Linked DNA regions of Homo sapiens: region 1 is linked to region 2. The links come from fine-mapping of genetic effects on gene expression. Tissue or cell type: whole blood. Region 2 holds a variant in brackets; the other region holds the start of a gene. All regions are shown on one strand. Distances are from middle to middle.

Region 1 (2,682 bases), 200 kb after region 2:
TAATGTGGACAAAAATAAAAGAAACAGTATACTGAAGCACATTTGCACTTTAATACTAATTTGGTTTGTATTTGCTTTCACCTTCAGCAACAATAAAAAGCAAGTGACTTTAGTCATAAAGTAGAATGTTAACTCTAAAATTACCGTGGCAAGAAATTGTTTTCTTGTACAGGCAGTTTCATGTGCAATGCTAAACTAACAAGTTTTGCGTGGTTTGTTTTTTTTTTAAACTATTCACTTAGTCAATTCTTCATGAAGGCTCTGTGACCATTCACATGTCCCTTGGCTCAAAAAGAGGTAGTGTAGATGAAATTACACTGATTTGGTCTTCAAGATTACAAAATAATTTTTGACCCTGTCCAAGTACCCGTTTTGCAGCAGTACAATACTAATGAGATTTTTAAAATAGGGGCCAGCCCTTAACTGTAAATTATAGATAAATGCTTGCAAGCTGGCAACTTCACGTTTATTTTTAAAGGCTTTCACATCAAAGATAAAGGCACCGAATCACGTATTTTAAAATAAGAAATGTAAACAGGCTTTCAACAGCTTACTAAAGAGTTAAATGGAATTGTATTTAGGTCTAATAATAAAGTTATCAATAACGCAGAGACACTAAAGGAGGAAGCTACAGGACCAAGATTTCCCCTCGAAGAAATGTCTGAACAAATTCAAAGTGAAATTTTTTAAGCTGTGTCTCGCTATTTTTACCACATTTTAAAGTAAGCTCTGTCTGCATGCAACCAACCGCAACCAAGAAAACAGAAGTGTCCTAAAATGTACCTATTCGCCGCAATAAAGCCAAAAAATATGCCCCTCCTACCTAGCGGGCCAAGTGGCAAGAACGTACGAGAAGTCAGGAAGTTTTGAAATGGCAGTGACAGGAGACGGGGGAAGGCACGGGAAGGAATCACGGAGAGCGAAGGCCACTCCGTGCGGCGGGCGCCGCGAGGTCCCGGCTCGGGACGGTACCCGACCGCCCAACTTTGCGCCGGAGCCCCGGCCGCGGCCCTTCCTCCCGGCCCAGCCCTCCCGGCCTCCGCGAGAGCGGGGTGACAGCCCCGCCGCAGGGACGCCGCCGGGGGACACCCACCTTCCTTCTCGGCCCGCGCCGCAGCCACTACGAGGGTCATCACCAGGTGCAGCGCGCCTAGGAGGCCGGCGGCCGCGCTCCGCGGGCCCCCGCTACGGGCGGCCGCAGGTTCCAGCCCGGCCCCGGCGGACGTGGAGACGGCGGCGGTGGTGGCTCCGGTTGCTCCTCCTCCCGCCCGCTTCCCCATCCCTGCCGGCCGGGGGCCGCCGCGCTCGAGGTCCGGCGCGGCCCTTCTCGGCGAGGCGGCGGCGGCGCGGAAGCCGTGGTCCGGGCTCTGGCCGCGGCGCCGGGAGCGACAACGGTTGCGAGCCCGGGGCTCGATCTCCGAGCGTGGGCCTGGGTCCGTGCGTGCGTGTGAGCGAGAGTGTCAGTCACGGTCTTTGCCTGGGCATCGCCTACAAGCAGTCGGAGCGGAGAGGCCGCGGGTCAGGCGCGGCGGGCGGCCATACTGGAAACGGGCACGGCCCGCGAGCCCTGAGCGCTGGCCTGCGAGGGGCGGGGCGCGGCTCTGGGCACCGCCCACGCTGTGCCGACACCTGGGCTGTCCGGCGGTCAGTCTGTCCGCCCCGGAGCCCCCTGGGCCCCACCTCCTCGTCCCGCTCTCGGAGGCCTGCGGCTTCACGGCCAGACAGAACCAGGACAGAACAACCCCAGCCCGTTACCGCTACCTGGCGCAGGAGAAGGAGGGAGGCAGGCCCAGGTCCAGCTGCCAGGACTTATGATGGCGGCTTCTGCTTCGCGGAGGCGGTGTCGGCAATCACGTGGAGACGGGGCGGCCTCGCCGCGCAGCCGCCGCGTTGCGTGGGCGGGGCAGGGGCGGAGTTGCGGGGCGCTAACCTCTTCTCCGGCGCCTGGGCAATCCTCCGTGCTCTGTCCTACAGTGGTAGAGCCTTCCAGGGGTGTGAGTGCGCATACAGACCGCGAGACGAGCGCGGAAGGTCCGTTCCAGTGACTCTTCCTGGTGGCACCCCCACCTCTCGACCGCTTTGACGTCGAGAATACCCCGGGCCTGACTCAGTTCTTGATGGTGCTTCCTTGAGGATGGTGGCCCGCTGAACTCATCCTTGGGTCTTCCAAATCATGGTACCCAGGAGGAGCTTGATGGAGTCCTCTTGCCTTGGCTTGTGCCCACATTGGCGCGGAACACCTCGTGTGCAGAAAGCGTCGGTGACTCTGGATGGAGAAGGCAGGGGCAAACAGACTGCTCTTTAGAATATCCAGTAGCCGGCTTCCTCTCTCGAGGAAGAATTCTTTTTTTTCTTTTCTTTATTTTTTAATTATTTATTTATTTTTGAGACAGGGTCTGGTTCTGCCGCCCAGGCTGGAGTGCAGTGGTGCGGTCTGGGACTACAGGCACCCGCCACCACGCCACGCCAATTTTTCTTTTTCTTTTAAGAAACGCTGTCTCACTATGTTGGCCGAGCAGGTCTCGAACTCCTGGGCTCAAGCAGTCCGCCTTCCTCGGCCTTCCAGAGTGCTGGGATCACAGGCGTGAGCCACTGTGCTGGGCCCGGAAAAATTCTTAAGACGTCTGTTACCTTCACGAGCCATCTCGCGCCTCTTAGATGCCCTTTTCATCTTAGGTTGAG
Region 2 (2,682 bases):
ACACAGTTAGTAAGGGAGCGGAGTCAAGATATAATCTGCACCTGCCTAATGGCAGAACGTGGCCTCAGGACGCCACACCTCTCTGCCTCTCCCTACCCTTGATAAAGCCAAAGCCAGAAACGAGAATGGCCACAGACGCCATCATTTCTCTGGTTAACAGACACTGAGACCCAACTGTGCCAGGCTCACGGCTTTCTTGGGTTTTAGCCCTCAATCCTGCAGTGGCTGCTGTCCAGTCCATGGGGTTTAAGTGTTAGAGGGGGGAGAAACCAAAGAAGTACAGAATCTAATGATTATTCAGCAACAAGAGTCCCTGCTCAGGCCAACCATGAACAGGCGGCATTTCTGGGCATCATCTTCCACTGGAAGCAGTGACTGGAGAGATGGCATAGCATGGCTGTGTGGCTTGCAAGCCATCCAACCGCAGAAGGCAAGATCCAGGGAGATAAACACATTCACTTGAAGAGGTCATCCTGAGCAGCTTCCAAAAACCAGAAACTACATAAGCTCATTATAAGAAATAATTTTAGTATGAGATACCAGGGGGAGAAAAAAAAGAACGTGTTGCCTCTAAAAAGAGAATGTTACTATTTAATGTAAATCTGCTATTTGCAGGGGTGTGGGGGTAGGCTTTTGAAAGATTATAAAGGTTTTGCCCAGCTGGAAGCCTATAGTTTCACAACATACTACTAGTTTGCAACCCCAAGATCAATGCCCACCTTTTAAAGTTCATTTTAAAGACTGTCTGTCTATATGCATGCTATACTTCAATAAAAACATTGAAGAAGAAAAAAAATATAGATACAGGCTCCTTCCTTTTTCCCAAACAGCATCAGTGGGAAGGATAGTGAGTAGAGTAGCCGCGCCTGCAAAGCTTCTAACCACTGTCTCCTCACAGGCTCAAGAGTCACCAATAATGTGGCATCCATGCTCCCTCACTGAGTATCTCTTAGTAGGTTGACTCTAGGACCACTGTGAAAATTAAAAAGCATTTCATTTTAAAATTTAGGTTCTCAATGAGTGACCCTGAAAATAGAATTGGCCCATCACGCTGGTGTTGGAAGACTGTGTTGACACAGGAATGAGGTAGTCAATTTGACTGCCCAACTCTTTCTTTGTGATAAGAAAGGATAATACAGATTTATTTTATTCACGCCCTAAATGTGGGGAAAACGC[T/C]ATGTAACTTGATCTAATTAAAAAAGAACTTTTAAGTATTCACTTAAGATTATTCTAAAAATTACCCTAAAATATGTAAGCTCAGTTAATAATGGGTTAGCCAAAAAGGATTTCTGTAGAAGAGGTTAACCAATCATATTCAAGACATCTTACTGTTTTACAAATCCGAATGCGTGTAATTCCAAGAGAACTCAATAGAGCTAGTTTTTGTATTCCTGGGACTAAAAAATTATCTAAAACTCCTTGACTCTGGGATGTCAAGTTTCTTCTGGCCTCTTAGGGCTGCCAAGATCCCTGTTTTCCGTATAAATTGAAGCCCAAAACTCCTTGGTAAACCATTCTGGAAGGGACTGATACAGGCTTGGAATAATGTATATTAGCATGGCTGCCACAAGACAGAAAGGAAGATGCAAAAAAGCTCAGGCTGTGAAGGGATGAAATTGCAATACAACTAGAGGCTATTTACTGGTTTTTACCTTTTGATTCTGGAGCTTACAAACTGGTCTACCTATTTGTGTGTGGTGCAGACTTCCAAGCTCCCAGTGGTGCCCACCTCTTGGTATTTATGCCCTTGCGCGGTTCTCTCTCCTGGAGTGTGGGCTGGACCACACTTCGAATGAGCAGAATACTACAACATTGATGGGATGCCACTTCCCAGATTAGATAGTAAGAAACAGTGACTTCCGTCCTGCTTCCTCCTTGCCCTCTTGTTTGCTCATTCTGGGGGAGCCAACTGCCAAGCTGTGACCCGCTCTGTGGAGAGGAACCATGACAGACCTCTGGCCACAGCCAGCAAGGAGGAGCTTGGGCCCTCCGTCCAACAGTCCGTGAAGAACTGAATCCCACCATCAACTGCCTGTGTGAACGTGGAAGCAGGTCCACCTTCAGTTGAACCTTAAGATGACATCAGCCTTGGCCAACACCTTGACTGCAGTCCTGTGTCCTGTGAGGGCCATGGGACCCCGCTAAGCTGTACTCATGTCCCTGACCACAGAAACTGTGAGATAAGAGTATACGTTCTTTTAAGCCCCTGGGTTTTGAGGTCATCTGTTACTCAGAAATAGGTAATTAATACAGTAAGCAGAACTCTAAAGCAGGGTTGGCTTTTTTTGCAAAGGGCCAGATAGCAAATATTTTCAGCTCTGTGGGCCATATTGTTTTGGTCACAATTACTTAACTGTGCCATAGAAGCATGAAAGCTGAGGATATACCAACAAATGAGCATGGTTCTATTCCAATAAAACTTTATTTATAAAACCAGGTGGTGATTTGGCCCGCTAACTGTAGTCTGCCAACCCCTGCTCTAAAGTAAAGAAATCCTAATTTGGAGTTAAAAGGCAGATGATCTCCATTTTACTCCTGTGCTCAAAATTATTTTAACAATAAAACAAAAGCTAAATCTATCACAATAACACAATCTCAGGCAGCTGAAAAGAAAAGCAGATGTCCACAGAATTTCTGATTTTGGTAAACAATCTAAGAAATACAAATATATCTTTTATGACA

Evidence for each region. PIP is the estimated chance that this variant, and not a neighbour inherited with it, causes the effect.
Region 1: TMEM131 starts here. The variant in region 2 is fine-mapped to the expression of TMEM131 in whole blood (TOPMed, PIP 0.97).

Annotation. Positions count from the first base shown.
Region 1 is chr2:97,994,383-97,997,064 of GRCh38, forward strand. TMEM131 (transmembrane protein 131) reads right to left here and starts at 1,566. Exons shown (of 41, transcript NM_015348.2): 1 at 1,094-1,566. The coding sequence starts at 1,280. RefSeq lists silencers at 856-1,415, 1,526-1,775 and enhancers at 1,312-1,825, 1,996-2,275.
Region 2 is chr2:97,789,529-97,792,210 of GRCh38, forward strand. The region is part of intron 31 of TMEM131 (transmembrane protein 131); the gene reads right to left. Among named protein-coding and RNA genes, the nearest start is that of ZAP70, 77 kb to the left of the region's middle. The variant T/C (reference allele first, on the strand shown) is at 1,177.